Regions from separate parts of the Homo sapiens genome. Here all the other regions are linked to region 1. The links come from fine-mapping of genetic effects on gene expression. A gene starts in region 1. Each other region holds a variant in brackets. All regions are shown on one strand. Distances are from middle to middle.

Region 1 (5,102 bases):
CCAACAATTCAGCCAAACGCAATGTTTTTTAGCTCCTCAAGGATATGCTCTCTCCGTTTAAAGTCTTCACGAGCTGCTCGTTCTGCCTGGCTTACGGACTGTGCCTGGCTAACTCCCAATCGTCCTTCAGCTAAAAACAGCTCTTCAGTGACCATAGAAACTAGGTTAACATGCCCCTATTTTCTGGTACCAGAGTAGTTCCTCATCATGCTATTTATTACACTGTGAATTGTAGTATTTACTTGATTTTCTCCTCCATAAACAGTAAACTCTATGAAGGCAGGTATACAGTACAGCCTGTCTTGCTCAAAACTGTATTCCAGATGCCTAGCATGGGTGTTCCATAAACATTTCTTGAATAAATGGAATGAGTGAGTGATAGGAATATGGGATCGGTTAGAGAGCTAAAGACATGTAGTGGGTTTGATATCTTTGCAATATGAAAAATGAAGTCGAATGGTTGGCATATTATTATTAGTTTATTATTTATACCGTGCTCTGTTCCAAAAAGGATGTAAGGAGGCAGCATGGCTTGAGTACCACCTTACTTGATGAGTTAAGGAGTTCACATCCATCTAGAGACACTTGTCTGAGAGACTGTATTAGAAGACTACGGGATGGTTTAGGGGAGGGAAGAGTGCTAAGAAAAGCAGTGGCATCTTGTCCAACCTCATCTTCTCTCTCCTCATTTGCAAATCATATCTCAGGAGTAAGCCAAAAACTGGTGGGAGGGTTGCAGCAGGAAAAAATTAGCAGTAAAGCAGGAGAGGGTTAATTCTTAGAAAGGTACACAATCCCACCATCCTTCCCACCTCTGGTGCCTACTGCAAGTAAAGAGTCTGGTCTTCTCCCGACAGGCTCTGGCTGGGCCTGTGGTCTCATGTGGAGAATAGCCAGCGTGGTCAGTCTGTAGGCAGGGGCCCACTGCTAGCTGCAGGCTCCAGGCTCTGCCCCTCCATCACCCCTTTCCTCCTCTTCATCCGACTGTGCCAAGGGCGTATCTGCTCCATCATCACTTGGATTTGGGCTATGCAGGTTGGTGGAGGAGTCGGAGGAGGAGGAGGAGGAGGTCCTAGATGTGGTCCTGTCTGATGTAGGCACCGGCAGGCTCAGCTCCTCCAAATGGTTGTCCATCCCTGCCCAGAGAGAAAAGCTGGTCAGGCCACAAACAGGGCTTCAGAGAACTCTTAAAGATTATCTGGCCAGGAGTAACTAAAGTCCACAGTGGGGCAGAGACTTGTCCAAAGTGACTTTGCCAATCCAGCAAAGAGCCAGGATTAAGATCACCATCTCCTGACTGCCAGCTCCTTCCACGTCATTACACCATGTCTGGGATCTACAGTCAGGTCAATGAATGGCAAGAGTTCAAGTTCCACCTACATCACTTATTGCTGCTGAGTGGCTTTGAGCAAGTCACTTTCCCTTTCAAGGACTCTGTTCCTCCTCTGCAAAATAAAAGGGATACCTACATCCCCAAAGGGTTTTGGGAATAAAACCTAAGAATGCTTATAAAATGTCTGGCATAGTAAGCCATCAATAAATAGTAGCAGTTTTAATTAAAAGAATATCTATCTTACAAGTTAAGCATATGGGCTTTGGAGTCAGACAGACATGAATTCCAGTTTATCTACCTTCTGGCTACAATGTGACTTAACTTCTCTGAGCCTAATTTCCTGCTTATAAAATAGAGATTATATCACCTACCCTGACAGGACGTTGTAAGGATTGAGATAATATATGTAAAGTACTTTAGTACAGTATTGGAACCTACTAAAGTACTCAATACATATTAATATCATTATAATGACTAAAACTACTTAAGTTGCCAAATATAAAAATTACAATTTTACATTATTTTAATTATAGTGACTAATTATATTAATATAACAAATGTAAAATTAAAGAAGAGATTGACCGTTCCCAGAATTTTGGATTAGAGATGTGTAACCCAGTTCTCCCTCAGGGTCAACTTCCCTAAAATCAGAACAGGCAGCTGTTTCATTGGTAGAAACACCCACTTCCAGCCCTTACTTGTGTACTTCCCCAGCCCAGCCTTGTAGCCTCGTTTCAGAGCCTGACATCCGGCTCTGGCTGACTGGCACTGAAGTCCCCAAAGCAGAGGGGCATACCAGACGACTGGGGGGTTGGTGGAGGATCTTCGCAAGGCAAGAACACATCTGCTGCATCCGGGTCCCCAAGGTCAATAAGTTCTACTTGCTCCAGTGTGTCCACATTCACTTCCATGGATGAGATACTACCTATGGGGGCTGCGGATCAAGAAGTGGGCAAGTCAGGAGGACCCAAGCTGCACACCAGGACAGTGAGAGTTACATGTCAGGTCCCAAGTTAGAAGCATAGAGGGCCAAGAAAACCAGAGGGGAGAGAGTGCCACAAGATTCAGGACCCACAGGACATCCTCCCTACCCTACCCCAGTCCCTCTTCTCAGGACTTGGGACTTACGTCTCTGCGACTCGAGATGCAGATGGGACAGAGGAAAGACAAACTCTGTCTCTGGCTGTAAAATGTCCTCGAAGAATTTTTGCCGCTCCCGAAGGCGGAGCTGCTGGCGCTCCAGGGCGGCCCGAGGATTTGGGTCCATGTCAGCTCCTGCGGGTAGAGGAGCAAAACAAGTACAGCTGCAAAGTCGAAAGAGAAGACAGAGGGGACCTGGGCTTGGGGCGCCCCACTGCAGCCAGCATCCCAACAGTGGGGCCCCTGGCTCCGGCCTGGACACCTCTGCCCTTGGTGACCTCTTTCCCCTTCCCTGAAACCAAGTGTGTCCCACAAACCAAGTCTCATGCAGAGGCGGGGCTTGCCCTAAGCTCCACAAAGGGGATGCCAGTTCCAGGCACCACAAGAGAGATACTCTGTATTCAGGGAACACAGCCAATGCCCAACTCTCCATATCATGCCCTCCTGAGAGGGGTTGGAGGGATTGGTTCAGCACAAATGGAGGAGGTACGTTTTCCCCTTAATTGGCCCCGCTTGCCTCAGAAGGCCAGGGACAGGATAGGATAGAGACAGAGATCTCAGGGTGGAGGGTTCCCTTCCTCCAGTGCTGCAGCCCACCCCTTCCCATCCTTCAAAACCCAGACAAAGGCTAAAGCAACTCCTCCCGCGCCCCTCCTTTTCTCTCCACCCACACAAACACGTACACACGCATGTGCCATCTACCCCAAACCCTTGCTCTGAAGTCACAGGCCTGACTTCCAGACTAGGCTCTGCCCCTAAGGAAATCACCTTTCTGGTCTTAGTCTCCCCATCTGAAAATGGCATAACCAACCTACCTGCCTCAAATACAAGACCCTGCTTGTGAAGGTGAGCTATTTAGGAGACTACCATCTTTCCTTTGAACTCCAACAGCTCTTTATGCGTCCCCCTCCTGGGACACATCTCACTGACTTATCTCCCCATTAGTCAGTGAGGAGCAATTGGAAAGGCGGGTTCTGGGTCCAGTTCAGAGCAGGCCTCCTGACCCCTAGGGCTGAGAAGCTGAGACCCTGCCAGAGCACTGAGGCTATGGGCCAGCCCAGGTCGGTGCATTCATTCCCATTCGCTCATCTCCTTCCCGGCGTTCTGCTCTGAGCCCATCACCAGAGGCAAGGGAGTTTCTAGCTTGAGGATCAGACGTCATCCTCCGCAGACTGCCTTCCCCACCTCATCTGCACCCAGCGTATCCCAGACCCTGGCCAGCTCCACGGGCGCCACAGAGGTGGAGAGGGACCCAACCCCGACTGGCCAAGGCAGGGCCACGGAAGTCTGGGGAGACCGTGCGGCCGCGGGCTGGCGGCGGAGGAGCGAGGCGCTGACGCCGATTCCCGGGAAAGGCTCTTAGAGCTGCCGCCCAGGTCACAACGCTAAAAATACCCAGGGCCCCTGGAGCCTGTGCTCCAGCAGCGAGGAGGGGGAGGGAGAGGCCAAGGTGGGGGAGCTGACGGGGGCCAGGGGCTCTGGGACACCCCCTCTCTTTTCCCCTCCCCCTAACCCCACCGATCTCACGAGACTGAAGGAGCTGTCCCCCGGGGGGCCGCGGAGCCCAGAGCTGGAGAAAGGGAGTTGTTTACGCGACCTATAGGTACTGGAAAGGGGGTGAAGAGATTTGGGGGCAGGAGGCTGCCAGGGGCCGGGCAGGAGCCAGCGAAATGGAGAACTCCCTCTCGGTCTCAGCCCCACCCGCACTGGAGCCAGCAAGAGGGAAAAAATTCCCTAAAAAGGGACACGAGGCGTCGGCGGAGGACGGGGGGAGGGCGCTCCCCCAAGGCCGTTCCCCTCGTGCTCCGGTCCCCTCCGCGGTCCACCGCGGCACCTGCGCCCACCGCCGCCGGAGCCCCTACCTGCAGCGCTGGCGCCCCCTCTGACTCAGTCCGTCCGCTCCAGCGAGGCCGCGGCGGGGGCGTGGGAGCGAGCCGCGCCGGCCGGGGTGGGGCTGCGCCTCCAGGGCTCCCGGGGGACCGACGGGCCCTGGGAGCCGGGAACGAGGAAGAGGCGGGAGGCGGAAGTGGGGGAGGGGCGGTGGCGGGCTCACTCGCTCGCAGCTCGCCCGGCGGTCGGAGGCAGCCCCTGCGAGCGCGGCTACTGGTACTTCCAAGGCGGTCAAAAAGTTACCCGCACCCATCCTTCCTCCCTCCGCCCAGCCGGACTCCTCTGCACCACCCTCGCCACCGACGCCGGTGCGCTAGTCTCCGCTCGCTCGGATGCACTTGCTGCGCCCCCGCCCCGCGCAGACCCGCGGCGGGCGCCCGCGCCGGTTCTGCCCACGCACACTTGATGCTCTGCGCCTTTTGGGCAGCGCCCACGCAACGACTACGCACCCGAACCCTGCCTCCGGCACCCTTGGCCACACTCGCCACACTTACACGCGCGCACTTCTCCAGAGGACGCACGATGGGAAAGAGAGAGTTGGGACCCGCAGGAGGGGGCAGGGCACTGACCCGGTGCCGCCCAGCAGGGCAGGTGCAAGGCGGCGGAGGACCCCTGCCCTGGGACTCGCCCGGCTGCCCCTGATTCCTGGCTCTGGGACTAGACAGAGCCGCCGCCCAACCTACCAAGCACACTGGGCGGGGTGGGCGCCGGGCCGGCCGGGCGGGTCAGAGCTGGAAGG
Region 2 (5,102 bases), 950 kb after region 1:
CTGGTGTGTAATAAAGCACTCAATAAATGTTAACTATTATTGATCTTCACCTGGGCAGTGGCTGCTGACTGTTTAAGTTTCTCAGCCTTTGAATCAGTTACTTCCGACCCAGCTCTATTTATTGACATGGAAAGATGCCCAAAGCGTACTGCTGAAGGGAAAAAAGCAGGCTACAAAAGAATATATGCCTCACAGGCCATTTTAAAGATCAAAGCTAACAATGACATCTAGCTCCTAGTAGGGTACCTGGGACACAGGAAACTGTCACTGAAAGCTAGCTGTGACTATTAGTAATATGAAAGGATTTTTGTAGTCAGTATGATGCCACATTCAAATATTATGTGAGTTCCTGTGAAACGAGATGATATTTGCAATGTGCTTGCATCAAAGGGAGGTAGAGCTGCGTGTTCCCTTCTGCCTTCCTTCTGACACATTTCAGGGAGTGACCATGGGCAGGGCTTGAGTTGGCCTTGGGACCCATTGATTTGATGTGAATTTTGCTACTTTTTTTTTTTTTAAGAGACAGAGTCTCACAGTTTGGACTGCAGTGGCTATTCACAGGCGTGATCCCACCACTGATCAGGGCGTGAGATTTGACCTGCTCTGTTTCCAGCCTGGGCCAGTTCACCTCTCCTTAGGCAACCTGGTGTTTCTTTGCTCCCAGGAGGTCATGTTTTGGTCCTTTTTTATGTGGCACTGGAGTGAAAGAAAAGAAAAGCATTGCCCTTTGGCATTGAGACTACAAACTTGGGTTTAGGGTGCTCTTTGTAATAACTGAGGTACTATAACAAATTAAACACTCGAGGGCGCTCCAGTCTATCAGCAATAGAGAGAAATACAAAAAGCCATGATAATAACGATGCTGTATGAATGCTGCTGTTACATTTAACAATGCTGTTTACATTTAACATTGAGTTCTTACTATGAGAGCCTAAAATGTAGCAAGAGAGTCACAAACTTTATCACATTTTAACCTTGCAAACATCCCATCAGTTAGAGAATATTATCAAAGATTTTATAATAGGGCATATCGCTCTGTGGGATTTAAAAAATTTGTGTATTATATATATACGTATATACATATATATACACATATATACGTATATACATATATATATACGTATATACATATATATACACATATATATATATGTATATATATATAATTTTTTTTGAGACAGGGTCTCACTCTGTCGCCCAGGCTGGAGTGCAGTGGCACAATTGCGGCTCACAGTAGCCGAGATCTCCTGGGCTCAAGCAATCCTCCTGCCTCAGCCTTCCAAGAAGCTGGGACTACGGGTATGCACAACCATACCTGGCTGATTTTTTAATTTTTCTGTAGAGACAGGGTCTTGCCATGTTGCCCAAGCTGGCCTTTGACCTCCCAAAGTACTGGGATTACAGACATGAGCCACCGCAACTGGCCTAAAAATATTTTTTTATGGAGTTGTAATTCACAAGTGTTGTAAAAGGTAAAAACATTAAGTGTACAGCTTGGTGAATTGTTACATGTGTATACACACAGGTAACCTCCATCCAGATCAAGATGTAAAGCTTTTCTAATATCCTTTCTACTCACTCCTACTCCCACCCAACGAAACCATGCTCCTGATTCTATTACCATTTATTCGTTTTGCTTATTTCTGAACTTCACATAAATGGAATCATACATATGCAAACTTTAGGGTTGCCATAAAAATTCAGGATGTCATTTTATTTTTTTTTTTTTTGAGATGGAGTCTTGCCCTTTCACCCAGGCTGGAGTGCAATGACATGATCTCAGCTCACTGCAATCTCCGCCTCCCAAGTTCAAGTGATTCTCCTGTCTCAGCCTCCCAAGTAGCTGGGATTACAGGCACGTGCCACCATGCCTGGCTAATTTTTTTTTTTTTTTTTTTTGTATCTTTAGTAGAGACAGGGTTTCACCATGTTGGCCAGGCTGGTCTCAAACTCCTGACCTCATGATCCTCCCGTCTTGGCCTCCCAAAGTGCTGGGATTACAGGCATGAGCCACCGCACCTGGCATCAATGTGCTCTTCTTAATCACTGTATAGTATTCTTTTTCTTTTTCTTTTTTTTAGAGATGGGGGTCTTGGTATATTGCCCAAGCTGGTCTCAAACTCCTGAGCTCAAGTAATCCACCTGCTTCAGCCTTCCAAAGTGTTGGGATTATAGGCATGAGCCACGGTTCCCAGCCCATGAGCCACTCAATTGCTGTATAGTATTCTATTGTACAAATGTACCACCATGTACTTATTCCTTCTACTGTCGGTGGCCAAGGGTGGGTTATCTTAGAAAAGCAGTATAGAGTGGTGGTAAGTGAATGCACTGTGGTATCAGAGGCCTGGGGGACTTGTCTCTTAGCTCCACCTCTTACTTGTGACCTTAGCCAAGTTACTTAATCTCCTTATGCCTCAGCTAACTCCACATTAATATGGACTAATAATAGTACCTCAAATGCTGTTGTATGGTTTAAAGGAGATATTCCATATAAACCACTTCAAATTAGTCCCAGCACAGAGTTAACTCAGTACATGTTATCTGTGTCATACCCATGAAACCTAGGAGAAGACTGAAGTTCAGAGGCTTGAAGATACTTGCTCAAAGTCACACACCCAGTATGTAACAGATCCCTTTGTCATGGATATTGACTAAATTAGAGTCATTCATTCATTCAACATTTTTTTTTTTGCACATCTATTATGTGCCAAGCACTCTTTTAGGACCTGAAACAGCCAGAAAGTTTCTACCGATATGAAACGTACATTCTTTTTATTTTTTTGAGATAGGGTCTCACTCTGTTGCCCAGGCTGCAGCGCAGTGGCACAATCTTGGCTCACTGCAACCTCTACCTCCCAAGGCTCAAGCAATCCTCCCACCTCAGCCTCCCAATTAGTTGGGACTACAGCTGCACATTGCAACACCTTAGGGAGGTCTCACTAAGTTGCCCAGACTGGTCTCAAACTCCTGGGCTCAAGTGATCCTCCTGCCTTGGCCTCCCAAAGTGCTGGGATTACAGGTGTGAGCCACT[G/A]TCTCCAGCCTAAATCAAATTCTTACTTATAGAAAGAAGCTTATAGACATGGCAATGTGCCTGGAATATCTTGTTTAGTGTGTATATGTGTGTATATATATATGTATAAATGTGTGTATACATATATGTATATATGTGTGTATACACACACACACACACACACACATATATATATACGTATATATACATATATATGTGTATATACATATATAAAATCAGGTCCTAAGACCATAAGCAGGTGTGGTATGTCTGCATGGAGCCCCGTCTGGGGATACACTGAACAACCCTTTAAATAGCACTTATTCTGTGTTGAGTGCTGTGCTAAGCACTCCACAAATGGTTAGCTTGTTTCATGCTCCTAACATTTAATACCCTATGTGTGACAGGTGCTGCCATTATACAGATTTGCAGGTAAAGAAATAGGCAGCAGAGAGGCTACACTCTAGCATGGTTAGGTTGCAAGCCAGCACGTGGCCCTGGGCACTTTGGTCTGAGTCTGTGCTCTTGACCACTTAGCTCTGCTACCTCTGCTAAGAGCATTTTTCTCTGGGTAGTAAAATTTCCACATTTTGAACTTTCTTATTTGTACTTCTCTTTATTGGTTGAGCTTTTGTGATAAGTAGGTTCCGTTTTCATTAAAAAAATTACTGGAGTTCTAATATGGGTTTTTGATGTCTTTAAGAATTAACTATGAATGCCTGCAGGGAAGGCTAGAATCCTAAGAGGGAGTCATTTTTCCAAAGGGACAAACCACTCCGGTCTCTTTTTGTGGCAATGAGACTACTGTCCTTGGTGTTGAGGACCCAGGGGCCAGCCCTGACTTTCTCCCACCCACTGTGATCCTGGGCAAGTCCCTGGTGTCCCTGTCACTACCTTCCAACAGCGAGGCACCTGGCATGGAGTGGCCCTTAATAAATATCCATTGGATAGAGGAAGAATGAACCACTGTCTCCTCTGGGCCTTGCTCCACCTCCACCACCACCAATATCTGCTCCCTGCCTATCCTTGGGGCCTTGAGAATTAACGAATGAATGAAGTCACTGTAAAGTGCTCATTATTTACAGGTTTTTATATTTATTTATTTTGAGACAGAGTCTCACTCTGTGGCCCAGGCTGGAGTGCAATGGCACGATCTTGGTTCACTGCAACCTCCGCCTCCCGGGTTCAAGTGATTCTCCTGCCTCAGCCTCCTGAGTAGCTGGGATTACAGGCACCCGCCACCATGCCCAGCTAATTTTTGTATTTTTAGTAGAGATGGGGTTTCACCATGTCGGCCAGGCTGGTCTTGAACCCTTGACCTCAAGCGATCCACCCACCTTGGCCTCCCAAAGTGCTGGGATTGCAGGTGTGAGCCACCACACCTGGCCTTGTTTGTAGGTTTTTAGAAAGGCAAACAGCAAGCAACATCAGACCCAACCAGATGGATAACTAATGGTGACCCCCCGAGGCTAGGGGAGTGTCCTTCCAAGCGTCCCTGAAACCAATGTGCAGGCTGCATCAGAGACAGGCCCAGGCCTTGCTGCTGGGAGTTTCCTGCCTGTGACCACCCCCACCTCGTGACCCGGCTCCTATCACCCCAGCCTCAGAAAGGCTGGGCCGCAGGGCCATAAATGCCTGCTATCATCAGTCCGTATCTCTAGAGCTGGGCTGTTTGCCAGGAGCCCTGCAATTATTTTTATTACATACAAGTCCTATAATTAATTTTTATCACTGTTTTCTCACAGCCACCTTGCAAGGAGGGCTAGTTTTGCTCTCTTTTGGTTTGGAGTTGGGGGAACTGGAACCCAGGCCTTGAAGGGGTTTCATGGAATTTCCTGGCTTTGCCCAAAGCTCTAGAAAGGGTTAGGGTTTGAATTCATAGACCGTGCTGGGGTCCGAGCAGAGAGTTGGCAGCAAGGTGGGGTGGGTGGTGGAGAATAGCCATTCAGAGTAGACAAAAGCCCTGAGGCTTGGCTGCTTCTTAGCTGTGTGACCTTAGGCAAGTCACTCAAACTCTCTGTGCCTTAGGTCCTTTTGTTTTGTTTTGTCTTGTTTTGTTTTTGAGACGGAGTTTCACTCTTGTTGCCCAGGC
Region 3 (5,102 bases), 36 kb after region 1:
TCATGCCTCAAATAAGATTTACTCTGAACAGGCTAGGCATGGTGGCTCACGCCTGTAATCCCAGCACCTTGGGAGGTCGAGGCAGGAAGACTGCTTGAGGCCAGGAGTTCAAGACCATCCTGGGCAACATAATGAGACACTGTCTCTACAAAAAATTTAAAAATTAGCCAGATGTGGTGCCTTGCGCTTGTAGTATCAGCTACTCAGGAGGCTGAGGTCGGAGGATCGCTTAAGCCCAGGAGTCGAGGCTGCAGTGAGCTGTGACTTCGCCACTGCACTCCAGCCTGGGCAAGAGAGCAAGACCCTGTCTTAAAAAAAAAGAAAGGAAAAAAAGATTTACTCTGAGCAGAAAGTTCCTTAGCAAAAAAAGAAGAAAATACCGCAGCCCTTTCGTGGGAGAATGAAAGTCCCACGAAAGGAAGGGGGTGAGTGCCCACCGGGTCTAGCTTAAAGGGAGGCTTTTCCTTTTTAGCAAAGGCATTTCCAACCTACCAGACACCACAGCACCCTTGTCCCTGCGCCCGCTCCCCAAACGACCAGCGCCCCCTGGGGACAGTCTTAGCGCCTAACACCGAGGTTTCTGCTGGCAGGTTGATGTGACCTGGACGAGAGCCAGAGGTGCGAGCAGAGGGTGGAGATCGCGCCATCAGCTGAAGGGGAGGAATGGGTGGCGAAATTCACGAGTCTACAAATAAGATCTTCCATATGGCACCTAAGACGAATACTGCTTACTCTGCCTGTTTGTCTGGGGCTGGGAAGGATGAAGGAAAGAGGCCTTCGGTAGAGGGAGCCTGTGTCGCGACTTCAGGCTTCCCCCACCCCCACCCCGAGGCCCCTAAGGTCAGTCTAGAACCAAAGAAGCCAGCGAGCAGCACCCCTCCCCCACCTCCGCGAGCTAGTCTCCTGAGTGGCGCGCTCTGTGAAGTCAGGGCGCTCGTGTGCTTCCTGGGTGCAAAGTGCCTCACAATCGCCCCGCGAGCTCGCAAGAGGAAACCGCGGCGCGGAGGCAGCAAGTAACTTGCCCAGGCTCACTCAGCTAGAAAGTGGCAGGAGCAAGGGCTCCTGGTTGCTCCCCATTCCATTTTCCCAAGAAAGGGAAAAGGCGAAATGAGAGCCTGCTCAGAAGTCACGAGGCAGGCGGAATAGCCCCAGCACCCTGTAGGTCATGCGCGTGCATTGCGACCTGATTGTCAAAAATTGATTGTCAAAAACTGATTGCACTGTGGCTGGTGTCAAAAAGTGGATGTCAGCTGGGCCTCCAAATGTGTCCTGCCTTGGTCACAGATCACAGAAGGCACCGGATCAGGAGGGGGAGCTGGTACTGCATCTCTACTGCTCCAGGGTGACATGGCAGGTCCACCCTCAATCTGAAGACCTCAACCCCAAGCCCTGGTCGACCCCATCTGGCCGGGGTCACCCTCTGTCGGTAGGAGTCACAGGGTCCTAACCATGCCGTTGGGGAGAGGAAAGCCAAGGGAGCCCGAGTTTTCTCCGGACGAAGACCTCCATATTCCCCAGAGGCAGGCTGCATGGAGTGGGCGCCCTCGGGAGAGCAGTGGAGCCATCGAGGGGCACAGAGCTCTCCGGGATTGGGGGTCAGGGCAGCGATGCAGATAGATCTCCAGTTTGGGACAGAGGGAGAACGATTGGATGGACTCTCCCCCCCTCCCACCCCGCCCACTCACACACTCCTCCCCACCATTACTGGGCACCAAGACTGGGCATCAGCTGCCGCGCGGACCAGCCTGGGCGGAGCCACAGCGCGGGGACTGCTTAGCACCTCATAGTGGCTGCTGCGTGCTCCCGAGCTCCTGCTCCCAGCGCAATCTTCCTGGAGCTCCCCTACGGTCGGTGCCTACCTCCGCCCCCACCACCCCGCTAATTCCCGTGCAAATTCCACCCCAGTAACCACTTTCAGCGGTCTTC[C/T]CACCCAGCTTGCACTCCAGCCCATTTCCTGAACAGTCTCCCTTGCAGTTCCCTTGCTGGGTATTTTCAATCCCATCAACTTTCGAAAATAATCTCTACTCACTCTTCCATTCCATCAACCTTTGCGTGAACTTCTGTCCTGAGTGCGCTGTCAGCGGGCAGTCAAGACAGCGCCCTCCCAGCTAAAAAATCTGACCCTTTCTGGGGAGCTCCCTTGCACTAGCCTTCGTGGGGGCCTGCCCAGGGAGCCCCAAGTGGAGGCTGGATTGGGTTGGGCCTGAGTGAGACTGGCAACTTCCACTTTGCTCCAGAGAGCCGGAGTTGGGCCCCAGTTGCCCACTGGGAACGCCACTGAATATATGGGAGGGCTGTATACGAAGGCGGGGACCCAGCATGGCCAGGGCAGCAAGGGGCAGGTCTGGGAGTGAGGGAATCCCAGCAGTACATCCTTCCACCTCATCCCACCTGCCCCGGCACTTAGGCCTCTGGCCACCTGCCTCCCACAATTCCACAACCAGGGTCTCCCCACTACCACCCTCTCTTTGTTTAACCATTTCAACCTAAAGCTCCTCCTCTGGGCCCAGTAACACAGATTTGGGGAGGAGGCCACCCTAGAAATGGCTGCTTAACAGTTAACTGGGAAAAAATTGAAGTGTTTGAATCTGATTTTATATTGAGTGACTTTTTAGAAGTCACATGACCTCTCTGAGCCTATTTCATGTTTATAAAATAGTGATACTAATGTCTGTTTCAGGGGGGTTTAAGCAAATCAAGCTTGATGTAGGAGAAGCCAGTTTGTGGGGCATTGAACAAATGTTTGGCCTTTTCCCACGCCACACCACGGCCATCATAATAAAGCCCTGTGGCCAGTCAGTCCCGGCTCCATTTCTCACTTATCAGCAGCTACCTAACTACTCACCTTTATGGAACTAGCTGCTTGTTAACAAGCCAAACGTACGTTTACATTCACAACCTTTTGCTAATATGGCATTTAGATCCCTAAGACTGTCCGTCTCACAATTGTCTGGATCACACATAAACATAACTGGAACGTGAAAAGCAGATGAGGCAGACAGGCCTAGCTTCTTACCAACTTTGTAATGGGGAAAAAGTTGTTTACTCCCAATCCTCTGTTTCTTTGTCTGCAAAATGGGGGAAATAGTAGTGCTTACCTTATTGGACTGAGTAAGAATACACATAAATCACTTTGCAGTACATGCCAGATAGGAGCTCAATACTTGGTAGTGGTACCTAGAGGACTGGCAAGCCTATCCCCCAACATTTGAAAACACAGGCTCAGAAGAAAAATGTCCCTGTTCTGTAAAATGGATAGGGGGGACGGTAGCCTAATAATTGTCTAGAATTATGGATCACTTCCTACGTGCCAGGGGCTGGGCTAGGCGCTTTACACGTGACATCTTATTGCATCTTCACAATAAAACCAGGGAGGGAACACTTTTTCCATTTTAAAGAAGTAAGTGTTGACCTACCAGAAAACAAAACAAAACAAGACAAAACAAAACCCAGGGAAATAAGTACCATTATTACCCTCATTTTACATATGAGGAAATCTAGGTAAGGGAGGTAACATAGCTTACCCAAGATCTCACAGCTAGTAATGGGACTCCAGGACTTTGCACTCCACTGCAGCTCTCTAAAGCCTTCCAGAATTGGACCTATGACTGTGACTTGCCCAGGTAGCGGCAGGGCAGGGATTAAAACCCTCAGCTCCCTCTACTCCCTCCTGCCTCAATGCTATTTCTACCACCCTTTATTACTTTACAACAGAAAACCTTAAGACAGTGGTTTTTAATCTCTCCACAGAGGAGTTCTCTTGTACCTTGATTCCATCCCTACTCCTCTGCCCTAGGTCCCCAGGGCCCTACCTCTGAGACTCCGTGGTCCCTGGGCTGCCGGTACAAGGAGGTGTTGCATACCTGTGCACTGACTGCCTTCTGGGGCTGGCAGAAGGAAGCTACTCTGACCTGGGAGTTGCTGAGGAAGGAGTCCAAGGGGATTCCTGTCCAGGGGAGACTGTTTGAGCTGTGTACCCTCCAGGATGCTGGGAGTCCTGGAGCTTCCCATTGTACCCCCTGATGTCTGCTGGCTGCCATCGTGGCTCTCATTTGGCACTGATATGGACAGGGCTGCCTAGAGCGAGGGGTTAGAAGTACCCTCTGAGCCAGACATCCCTTTTTCCTTTCCTGTCCTCCTTTAAGGGTTATAAACTATTCTGACCATCAGCTATGTAGGAGTCTCCACTTTTCTCTCTGAATGGCCAGAGTTCAGGTGGTGGGTGGGAAAAAGGGAGGTCAACTTCAGACACCTGGAGAGTTAAGAGATATGCCAACTCAGTAGTGGGCTAGTACTCTCTTATCTAGGTACCTTCCTTTATCCTTTGGAAATAGATTTCCCACATTCCTAAGATCATCTGAAAATCTCTGGCCAATGCTGGGCACAGTGGCTCATGCCTGTAATCCCAGCACTTTGGGAGGCTGAGGCGGGTGGATCACTTGAGAGGCCAAGAGTTCGAGACCAGCCTGGCCAACATGATGAAACCCCGTCTCTATGAAAAATACAAAAATTAGCCAAGCATGATGGTGCCAACCTGTAATTCCAGCTACTTGGGAGGCTGAAGTATGAGCATTGCTTGAACCCAGGAAGCAGAGGTTGCAGTAAGCTGAGATTGGGCCACTGCATTCCAGCCTGGGTAATGAAGTCGGAGTGAAACTCTGTTTCAAAAAAAAAAAAGGCCAGTTGGGCTTGGTGGCTCACACCTGTAAAATCCCAGCACTTTGGGAGGCCGAGGCAGGTGGATCTCTTGAGCCCAGGAGTTCGAGACCAGCCTGGGCAAAGTGGCAAAGCCCTGTCTCTAAAAAAATAAAAATAAAAATAAAAATACAAAAATTAGCTGGGCGTGGTGGCATGTGCCTATAGTCCCAGCTACTTGGGGGGCTGCGGCAGGAGGATCATTGAGCCTGGGAGGTTGAGGCTATGATGAGCCAAGATCACACCAGTGCACTCCAGCCTGGGTGACAGAGTAAGACCCTGCCTCAAAAAAAAAAAAAAAAAAAAAAAAGGAAATCTCTGGCTATATTTAATGTACTGCATATCAGCTTTTCTTAGAAAGCTAGTAATGTTTATAAAGTACTATTCATCCTCGGTATTTAAAAAAA
Region 4 (5,102 bases), 29 kb after region 1:
CCTCAGCCTCCCAAGTAGCTGGGATTATAGGTGCCCGTCACCATGCCTGGCTATTTTTGGTACTTTTAGTAGAGATGGGGCTTCACCGTGTTGGCCAGGCTGGTCTCGAACTCCTGACCTCAGGTGATCCACCTGCCTCGGTCTCCCAAAGTGCTAGGATTACAGGCATGAGCCACCGTGCCCGGACAAGAGAAGGAAATTCTGACACATGCTACAACATGGAAGACATGTTAAGTGAAATAAGGCAGTCACAAAAAAAAGACAAATATTGTATTAGTCCACTTATATGAGGTTCCTAGAGTAGTCAAATTTATAGGGACAGGAAGTAGAACAATGGCTGCCACGGGCTGGGGGAGGTAAAAATGGGCAGTTATTATTTAATGGAATACAGAGATCCAATTCCATAGGATAAAAAAAGTTTAAAGATGGATATCCATGATGGTTGTACAAAGAGAAGGTACTTAATGTCACCCAACTACTTTTTTAAATGGTTAGGGCTGAGTGCGATGGCTCATGCCCATAATCCCAGCACTTTGGGAGGCCGAGGTGGGCAGATCACTTGAGGTCAGGAGTTTGAAACCAGCCTGGCCAACGTGGTGAAACCCTGTCTCTACTAATAATACAAAAATTAGCTGGGCGTGGTGATGTGTGCCTGTAGTCCCAGCTACTGGTGAGGCTGAGGCACGAGAATCACTTGAATGCAGGAGGTGAAGGTTGTGGTGAGCCAAGATTGCGCCACTGCACTCCAGCCTGGGCGACAGAGTGAAACTATATCTCAAAAACAAAAACAAAAATGGTTAGAAGGTAAATTTTGTGTTATCCATATCTTATTATGCCATATTTTTTTTTTAAAAAAAGAGTGGAGGTTTTCATTCAAGAGTCTTGGATTTAGTCCACAAGGCTTACCAGCTGTGTGTCATTGGGTAGGTCTCTTTACCCACTTCTCCAGTTTTCACCCCTGCCACTCTTGGCTACTGCTTTCTAATCTAGCAACATCCAATGTACAACATAATTCCATTCCACACTCATATTCTTTAAGTTCCCTCTTTTGAGAATGCTCTGCCCACCTCCCTCGACCTGCCCCATACCGCTATGCTTGGCCAACATCTACTCATCCTTCATTCCTCCTCACCATCTCTAGGAAGATCCCCTGACATCCTCAGGCTGGGTTGGGAGGCTCCACCTCTGTGCTCCTACAACCCTCAGTATTACCCGTATCATGCTATTTATTTCATTTTTCAAAAAATACTTTTTGGGCACCCATTGTCCACCAGGCACTGTTCTAGGATCTGGTGGCTTATCAATGAATAAAACGGACACAAATCCCTGCCCTTGAGGAGTCTACCTTCTGGGGTACCTATCCCCTTGGCCTGTGAACTCAGAGGCATGCTCTGCCTATAATGTTGCTGTCCCTTAGTGCCTAGCACACAGTGATTCCCCAGCCCTGGAAGCTCAGGAGTTGAGTAGTGAGTATAGGTGATTCTGATACAGCCCACCAGGCACCAGGGCCTCAGAGCAGCATTGTTCAGTGAAGTCCAGTTGATCAGAGCTGAAATTGTGTGCAAGGAGGGGTATGTCTGAGCAGGCAGAGCAGCCAAGGAGTATGGGGGTAGACAGGAGAGAGAGAGGGTGCACCCTCTGTGTCTTCCTTGCCAAATTACCACATTGCTTTCTTTCCTAGGCCACAGCAGCAGTTTAACCCACTACCTAACCTTCACTTGAATAAGAAAGGATATTTATATGTGAGAAGCTGTCCCACAGCCTAGGTAGGGTTGGCCCCTCACCCCTCCGTTCAGAGCTAAGCACCCACCCCCCGTGCATGTACATCTCTCCCCACTAGAAGTGGAATGGTGTGGAGTGGGTCCCACATTTGATTGGTTATCTGACTGGCCTGCTGAATGGGGTGGTGCCCACAAAAATGTTTTTCACAAGCTCTTCATACTATTCTGATGCAGCCAGCTGGGCACCAGGGATTCAGGGCAGCCAGCGCCCTTTACAGCCTGTTGTGATCTGCCTAACCCACCACGACTCCCTCTCTGCCTCATCTTCTCCCACCACCATTCATTCTCCTCTTCCCTCTCTCTCTCAGGTGTCTGCTCAAATCTCATCTTATTGGTGAATCTTTCCTAGACCACCTTTTTAATATACCAAACCCTCTACCTCTGCCCTCCCTGTTCCCTTTACCCTGGTTGCTGTTCTCCAGGCACTTATTTCCATCTGATGTAGCATTGGCGTGCTGGGGCTAACTCATAAGGGCTCACAAGTCTACTGTTACACTTCTAGGAATTCTGCAGGCTGGTTGTTAGGCACGGCCATCATTAAAATGTAATTGATAGCAACTTCCAATTAAATAAGTGATATTAAAAACATAGGGTGAAAAATGCTTAAACTTGTCACTTTCTATTTTTTACTAC[C/G]TTTTACTATTATCTATGTTCTTAGGATTCTTTATATCTGTATATCTGTAGAGTAGAAATATATCATATATGAATCATATGTAGATCTGAAAAAAGACCCCCCAAAAACAACAAAAAAAGAGAAAACATAAGCAAGTGTCCTGCCCATAGCTATTCGATTGTAAATAACAAAAAGAATCTGAGAAATATATCTCCAGTATTCAAAAACTATGGTCTAATTCAGCAAATAGGTCAATGAAATCATTGATAAATGAGTTAAATTTCAATATCTCTGTTGTTTCACTTTTTCACCTTCTTCTTACTGTTTAGTGTAAATGAAAATACAAACATTAATGTTGGTATTATACTTGTTTATCCATTACAACCATAGGTTGGCTATAAATGGAGGGGTTAGGCAAAATCCAAGAAAAGCATACTATAAGAAGCAACTCACTAATAGAAGTTACAATAAAGAGTATTATAGGATTCTATTATTTGTTGATTTCTATCAGTAAAATTTATAATACAAACACATATACATTTTGCTTCAGAGAGCCAATTATTAAACATTTACAAGTACACACACTGTTTCCCCTCCACTAGAATGTAAGCTTGAGGGCAAGAATTTTCTGTTATTCTAGCACTTAGAAAAAGCACCTGGCAAGGCCAGGCGCGCTGACTCATGCCTGTAATCCCAGCACTGTGGGAGGTGGAGGTGGGCGGATCACAAAGTCAAGAGATCGAGACCATCCTTGCTAACATGGTGAAACCCCATCTCTACTAAAAATACAAAAATTAGCCGGACGTGGTGGCGGGTGCCTGTAGTCTCAGCTACTTGGGAGGCTGAGGCAGGAAAATCGCTTGAACCCAGGAGGCGGAGGTTGCAGGGAGCCAAGATCTCACCACTGCACTCCAGCCTGGCGACAGAGTGAGACTCTGTCTCAAAAAACAAAAAACAAAAAAAGAGAAAGAAAAGAAAAAGCACCTGGCATGTAGCAGGCGCCCAGTCAAAACAGGCGACATGACTGAATGGATGAGCATGGTTTGGGAATCCCTGGTTTCATGGGTTGACTATCAGACCTTGGTTAGGTTTCCAGCCCACTATGATCTAGCTGGGCTAGATCTAGTGTGGCCTTGAGTAGATTATTCAACCTCTTTGAACCCTGGCTTCCTCATTTAAAAAGAGGGGATAATCCTCTTACCCCACAGGGAGGTTGTGACAATGCACACAGCTGTCTGTCGCCTATTGTCTATATTTCTTTCTCACCCTCTACCCCTCACCTCTGCCACATACACTCCTTGGAGACCCAGCCCTGCTACTGTCACATTTCAGTGATGTCACAGCTGCAGGTGGTACAGAGCCAGCACCACCATCTGATGCCCAGCCTGAGTGCTGGCTGAACTGAGAGGAACAGGGTTGGTGCCTGGCACTGGTGTTGCTCCATTCATCTCTGAGGTCTCACAGCCCCAGCATGAGTCCATCAGCAAAGAAGAGGCCCAAGAACAGCAGGGTTTCCAAGGTCAGACTTGGGACTAGACCCTGGGGGTGAGTCCCTAGAGGGGACCTTAACAAAGAATCCACCATGCCAAGGAAAGGGGCTTTCCAGCATGGGAGAAAAGGAAAAGGTGAAGGGTGAAGGGAGGTCAGGAGAGTTAAAATGGTCTCCCAGTTCTGTCCCCAGACCAAGATGACAAAACTCCCAGCCTAGGATTGGTCAAACCATGCTCAGCCAAATGAAGAGGCACATGGAGGAGTTCAGGAGGATTCCTCCAGTGCCTCACTCTGTCGCCCAGGCTGGAGTGCAGTGGCGAGATCTCAGCTGACTGCAGCCTTCACCTCCTGGGTTCAAGTGATTCTCCTGCCTCACCCTCTTGAGTAGCTGGGACTACAGGCGCATGCCACCACACCTCGCTAATTTTTGTATTTTTTTTTTTGGTAGAGTCAGGGTTTCACCATGTTGGCCAGGCATCTCAAACTCCTGACCTCAAATGAGCCACCCACCTCGGCCTCCCAAAGTGCTGGGATTACAGACATGAGGCACCACACCTGGCTGATTCCTCTGGGTTTATGTCTCTCTTATCCTCTGTCCCTCAGATGCAAGATGAGAAACTGCGGGACGAGACAGAGCAGCCTGTGAGCAAAGTAATTGAGCGGAACCGTCTGAGAACGGTGAGACGCCCTGTTTTGGCCCCAGCTTGGGGAAGCTCATATACTCATGCAGTACTGCCCCTGGTTGCCAGGCTGAGTGGCCCAGGGGAGCCAGCAGGCCGGCCCTTGGCTGAGCGGAGCCAGAGGCAGGCAGGGGAGAGGGAGGCTGTCCAGGAAAGCTGAAGCTTCTATTTACCTGGTTTCTTGACCCTGGCAGGTGTTAAAAAACTTGTCGCTCTTGAAGCTACTCAAGAGCTCAAACCGCCGGATCCAAGAACTGCATAAGCTGGCCAAAAGGTGTTGGCATTCACTGCTCAGTGTTCCAAAGATTCTCCGCATCTCCTCTGGGTAAGCTGGGGCCTGGCCCCCATAATGGACCCAAATGCCGTCTTTCTGGGAACAGGCATTGTGCTAAGGCATTTAGAGAACAAGTCTAATTTTCACAAAGCCTCTGTGAGAGAGGTATTTATTAACTCTATTTTACTGCTGGAGAGCTGAGGCTGAAGAGGTGAAGTGACTTGTCTCATTCAGTTAACTCAACTGATAAGTGGCAGAGCTAG
Region 5 (5,102 bases), 670 kb after region 1:
TGAGGAGCTTAGCATGGCAGTGTTACAGGTGGCAGTTGCTGCCATATGGCAATTTGAGCCCAGTTGCTACAGACAGAGGCCTGTCCCTTTTCCTCCTGCCAAGGACCACCCCTCCCTTTCCCAGTCAGCATAATATGTTGGAATCAAGAGCTGTCTGTCTGAATCAACGGGGGCAGGACTTGCATTTCACAAGACATCATGGGCTAGAAAGAGTCAAGGCAAAGAAAGAGCCTGAGACGTGAAGAAATACATGTGCTAATGTTAGTGTAACACAGAGCTTCCCTACCCAATGCCTTAGCCAGTAACCATATGTGGCCATTTATAGTTAAATTAATTAAAATTGAATTAAGTTGAAATTTCAAGCCAGGTGCCATGGTGTGAGCCTATTGTCCCAGATACTTGAGAGTCTGAGGCAGGAGGACTGCTTGATTCAAATACAGGCTGTCTGGTTCCAGAAACCTGCCCTTAACATTTATTCATAATCTTCGCTTTATATAGGCTAAGGAGGCTTTTGAGGGAAGGAAAGCTGGTATAATGTCCTGAAGAAAGTCCTGCAGGGGCTGGGCACAGTGGCTCATACCTGTAATTCCTCTCAAAGTGCTGGGATTGCAGGCATGAGCCACCGTCCCTGGCCAATTCTGGTTTCTTTAAAGTGGGGCAAGGACCTGCAGACATTTGTATGGCAACTGGAGTGCAGAATCCCTCTAGATTCTTGTGGGTTTTTTTTTTTCTAGATGTTTTGTAGTTGTTTCTTCCACACCTAATTTGACAGTATTCTTTTTAGCAACCAGTCTTCATTCAGTTTTCAGAAAAACAAATCTCTTCCTTTTGCACTCATATTTCATCAGTTTATGGAATATCTAATTCAGTTACATTGTTACAATATTAAGTGTGCTGTGTGCAAACTGATTTGGGAACAGACCCAGCAGACTGTTGGCAAGCATGCTCTTCTACGGCCAAGAGCCAAAGGCGACCAGGGGCCTAGGGAATGGCTTACTAGCCATAAGCATTCAGTATGCCTGGGGCAGTAGCGTTGCATTCAGAGAGCATGGAGAGCGCTGGTTAGCCTGGCAAGCTGGTTAAACAGATTAGTAAAGAGGACTTTGTGCACTAACTCTGGAAAAGACTCCATAGTGTGGAATTGTCTCTGGAAGACATGTGCCCCACTGGAGACTACATTTCCCAGCATCCTTGGCATCTAGGTGTGACCATGTGACTAGTCTCCACCAATGGAATGTGAGCAGGAGTGGTGAGTGTCACTTCCAGGCAGGGCCTCGAGGAAGTAGGTGAGCTTCTCCATCCCTGTCTGTCTAGATGCAGAGAACCCAAAGCCCTGCAGGATGGCAAAGCTGCAACATGGAAGTCACCCGGATCACCACGTAAAGGAAATCTCTCCAACCAGGAACAAACACCTGCCTTGCAATATTAGGTAAGAGATAAACTGCTATTGTGTTAAGCCACTAGATCTTGGGGGCTGTTCGCTATAGCAACTAGCATTACCCTCTTTAATACACTTCCCATATAAGGCTGTCATGAGGATTAAGTTAAATGACACACATGTAAGAGACTCTTAAATGGGACTTTTCCTATTGTCTCAGATTTACAGCTAAAGCCCCAAAGCCAAGGACGGACAAGAGGTGTCAAATACCACCATATCATGCCTGCAGGAACTTTTTTTTTTTTTTTTTTTTTTTTTTTTTGGAGACAGGGGTCTCACTCTGTCACCTACGCTGGAGTGCAATGGTGCGATCTTGGCTCTGCAACCTCTGCCTCCTGGGCTCAAGCTATCCTCCCACCTCAGCCCCCCAAGTAGCTGGGACTACAGGCACAAGCCATCATGCCTGGCTAATTTTTGTATTGTTTGTAGAGATGGGGTTTCGCCATGTTGCCCAGGCTGGTCTCGAACTCCTAAGCTCAAGCAATCCAACCTCCTCAGCCTCCCAAAGTGCTGGAATTACAGGCGTGAGTCACTGTGCCCACCCCCTGCAGTACTTTCTTCAGGACGTGGAAGAGGCCATTGCTAGGCTCTCTCTGGTCCTCCAAAGGCCAGAGCCCATATTGCAGTTCGGGACATGGCTGCTTTCCAAACTAGGATGGGATAATTTTTTAAATCCCTGGGCTGGGAGACAGGAGGCCTGGTTCTCAAATGGACTCTGTCCAAGACTTGCTAAATGACCATAGGAAAAACACTATTCTACATGGACCCCATTGTGGCCCACCTATTCATGGCAGAGGAGTAGGCAAGAGAAACACAGAAACACCCTCTAAGTGCTTTGCTGAGGGCCCATTAACCTCAGGAAACAGAGCCCTGAAGATGTTGTGAGTCCTCTTCTCTCAGGGCCATGGAACCTTCCCCCCACCTCCTCTCCCACTGCCAAGCTTGATCCCCAGGGCTCTGAGCCACACATTCCAAGGTAGAGCTTGAGCCACACGAGTCCCCATAACCTGCATTTGCACCCTTCTTTACCTGCACGGTGTGAATGTTCACCTAGAGCCAGGAAAACAGCACAAGAGGTACCCACCAATGAGGAGTGGGTGTCTGGGCTGTTTCCAGACCCCATGGCAACTACATTTCAGAGCTGGGCCTGTGTTCAAGGGACTCAGGCAAGTAGTTGAGATAATAATAATGTTAATGTTTGAAAAGATTGTAGCATAGTGGAATATTCTCCACCTTCCAGGTCCTTCCTAGGGCTTGGTGCATGTGCATATCTCCTTCCGGAATCCTGGTCAATACTAAGGTAAGATGAAAAAACTGCGGGTTTGGGATAAGCAGGAAAAAAGAAGCAAACTCTCTTAGTGG[C/T]GGAACTTACTGAAGTTAAGCTTCGAGTCTGTATTGGTCAGGACTCTTGGTTGCAAGTGACAGAATCCCAACTCTGTTAGTGTGGTTAAAGGTTAAGCTGCTGTAACAAAGATGCCCAGCAGTGCAGTGACTTAAAGAAGACAAAAGTTTACTTCTTTTTCAACTGCGCTGCCAAGTTGTCAAGGCAGCTATGATCCAGGGGGCCACTCAGAGACCCAGGTTTCTTCATAGTGCACCCCATCATTCCTTAGGACAGTGGTTTCCAGAGTGGTCCTTGGACTGGCAGCTTCAACAGCACCTGGGAACTTGTTAGAAATGTCAATTCTCCAGCCCTATCCTGGGCCTAGCGAATCAGGAACTTTAGGTGTGGGGCCCAGCCATCTGTGTCTTTACAGGCCCTCCGAGTGATTCTGCAAGTTTGAGAATCACTGCACTGCCCCAGGATACTATTCCTGTCTGCACAGTGGAAGCTGGGGCACAGAGGGTTGCAGCCAATGGGAAGGGGAAAGAACTCGAAGCAGGCACACAAACTTGTAAGGCTCAGGTCAGGAAGTGGCACATGTCACTTCCCTTCATATTTTATTGGTAAAGATTGAGTCACATGGCCACACCTAGCTGCAAAGGAGACTGGGAAATGTAGTCTAGGCATGTGCTCAGATAGAAGGGAAATCATCTGAGTAGGAGAAAGAGGCAGTGGAAAGCTCTGTGAACTCAGCATTCTGGTCACTGGGACAGTATAAAATTTGAGATCATTTGTTTCATGACTTTGAACCATGACTATCTGTCCCATGGTAAAATTCCTATACTAGAGAAAGAAGGTAGTTTATCCACATTCTTGTCTAACACAAACATTTGACATTTCTTTATTGTGAAATATTTAAGACATTGTGGCAAAGACTGATGGATGTTTGTGATAGCACATGAAATGTAGATAGACTACATTTCCCAGCCTCCCTTGCAGTTGGGTGTGACCATGTGACTGAGTTTTAACCAATGAGACAAGAGCAGAAGTTCTGTGTGCAACTTCCTGGCTCCGGCTCTCCATGAATTGATTGTCTGGGCTTCCTCCCTGACCTAGTCAGGCCTTACTGGATGCAGATGATTGGGAGAAGGAGAGAGGAAGGAGGAGCCCTAGACGAAGGATCCTGAGTCCCTGTATCACCATGTAGGGGAGCCCACCAAGCAGAAGCACCCATAGGGAATGTTACGTAACACACATAGACTTTGTGCTTTGGCTAGTAAGCATTTTGGCAGTGACGTTCCAATGGCGCTGGTGGTAGTGGAAGTGGATGCAGGTGATAAAGGGGTACATTGTCTGTACAGAATTTTAAAACAGTAATGAAAAGGTCTAAAAGTCAATCTGCTTTTTATTATCACCACATGCCAGCAATTCTAAACATTAGTGTTAAAATATTCCTTCTCACCAGGGAGAAAACTCCCACTGTTAGAAGCATTTGAACCAGAGCGATTCCATCTTGAATAGGGGCTGGGTAAAATAAGGCTGAGACCTGCTGGGCTTCATTCTCAGATGGTTAAGGCATTCTAAGTCACAGGATGAGATAGGACGTTGGCACAAGATACAAGTCGTAAAGACCTTGCTGATAAAACAGGTTGCAATAAAGAAGCCGGCTAAAACCCACCAAAATCAAAATGGCCTCGAGAGTGACCGCTGGTCGTCCTCACTGCTAGACTCTCACCAGCGCCATGAGAGTTTACAAATGCCATGGCAACGTCAGGAAGTTACCCTATATGGTCTAAAAAGGGGAGGCATTAATAATCTATCCCTTGTTGAGCATATCATCAAGAAATAACCATAAAAATAGGCAACCAGCAGCCCTCGGGGCTGCTCTGTCTATGGAGCATTATTCCTTTGCTTTCTTAATAAATTCACTTTCACTTTATGGACTCGCCTTGAGTTCTTTCTTACGCGAGTTCCAAGATCCAGATCCCTCTCTTGGGGTCTGGACTGGGACCCCCTTCCTGTAACACTACCACCTCCCCTGGTCCCTTGGTATGCCACTGGATTTCGGGTTTATTTATTACTGGGATCTGGTTTACCCTAGCTAATAAAGACAGGCATAAAGGTATAAATAGCAATGACGAACATCCATATGTACAACATGTTTTTTAAGGAAAAAAACATTACAAATATGACTGTTGACATGAACATTTAAAATAAATTTAGATTTATTCTGGCAACTGCAGTCTGATACTTAAGCAATCTTCCTGACGTGGGGAAAAGACTCAGGGAGACTTTGCATTCCACAGATGCCACATCAGCCATCTGGAGTAGGCAGCGCAG

Which allele goes with the higher level. Alleles are on the strand shown, and positions count from the first base shown. SD is a standard deviation of normalised expression in the study named. Not every link is listed here.
With allele T in place of C in region 3, the expression in tibial artery of the gene that starts at base 2,779 in region 1 is higher (small effect, 0.27 SD a copy in GTEx).
In carriers of allele T in region 5, the expression in amygdala of the gene that starts at base 2,779 in region 1 tends to be lower than with C alone (moderate effect, 0.45 SD a copy in GTEx).

The links. PIP is the estimated chance that this variant, and not a neighbour inherited with it, causes the effect.
Region 2: its variant is fine-mapped to the expression of DBNDD2 in gastroesophageal junction (GTEx, PIP 0.97).
Region 3: its variant is fine-mapped to the expression of DBNDD2 in tibial artery (GTEx, PIP 0.97).
Region 4: its variant is fine-mapped to the expression of DBNDD2 in whole blood (TOPMed, PIP 0.94).
Region 5: its variant is fine-mapped to the expression of DBNDD2 in amygdala (GTEx, PIP above 0.99).

Annotation. Positions count from the first base shown.
Region 1 is chr20:45,405,966-45,411,067 of GRCh38, reverse strand. It overlaps DBNDD2 (dysbindin domain containing 2), which reads right to left and starts at 2,779. Exons shown (of 3, transcript NM_001048225.4): 1 at 2,462-2,779; 2 at 2,130-2,267; 3 at 461-1,136. The coding sequence starts at 2,600. The coding sequence ends at 928. It overlaps SYS1-DBNDD2 (SYS1-DBNDD2 readthrough (NMD candidate)), which reads right to left. Exons shown (of 6, transcript NR_003189.2): 4 at 2,462-2,608; 5 at 2,130-2,267; 6 at 458-1,136. LOC107985404 (a long non-coding RNA gene) reads left to right here and starts at 3,179. Exons shown (of 5, transcript XR_007067608.1): 1 at 3,179-3,319; 2 at 4,636-4,954. LOC107985405 (a long non-coding RNA gene) reads left to right here. Exons shown (of 2, transcript XR_001754640.2): 2 at 1-493. RefSeq lists an enhancer at 3,642-4,191.
Region 2 is chr20:44,456,710-44,461,811 of GRCh38, reverse strand. The region is part of intron 2 of LINC01620 (long intergenic non-protein coding RNA 1620); the gene reads left to right. Among named protein-coding and RNA genes, the nearest start is that of LINC01620, 6.1 kb to the left of the region's middle. The variant G/A (reference allele first, on the strand shown) is at 3,032.
Region 3 is chr20:45,369,500-45,374,601 of GRCh38, reverse strand. It overlaps TP53TG5 (TP53 target 5), which reads left to right. Exons shown (of 5, transcript NM_014477.3): 5 at 591-2,045. The coding sequence ends at 695. All of the region lies in intron 3 of SYS1-DBNDD2 (SYS1-DBNDD2 readthrough (NMD candidate)), which reads right to left. It also overlaps a transcript of SYS1 not described here. Among named protein-coding and RNA genes, the nearest start is that of TP53TG5, 6.3 kb to the left of the region's middle. RefSeq lists an enhancer at 1,200-1,259. The variant C/T (reference allele first, on the strand shown) is at 1,927.
Region 4 is chr20:45,377,000-45,382,101 of GRCh38, reverse strand. It overlaps TP53TG5 (TP53 target 5), which reads left to right and starts at 3,777. Exons shown (of 5, transcript NM_014477.3): 1 at 3,777-3,913; 2 at 4,489-4,563; 3 at 4,760-4,890. The coding sequence starts at 3,866. All of the region lies in intron 3 of SYS1-DBNDD2 (SYS1-DBNDD2 readthrough (NMD candidate)), which reads right to left. The variant C/G (reference allele first, on the strand shown) is at 2,415.
Region 5 is chr20:44,735,147-44,740,248 of GRCh38, reverse strand. It overlaps KCNK15-AS1 (KCNK15 and WISP2 antisense RNA 1), which reads left to right. Exons shown (of 5, transcript NR_132377.1): 2 at 1,315-1,429; 3 at 2,679-2,738. Among named protein-coding and RNA genes, the nearest start is that of KCNK15, 8.2 kb to the left of the region's middle. The variant C/T (reference allele first, on the strand shown) is at 2,801.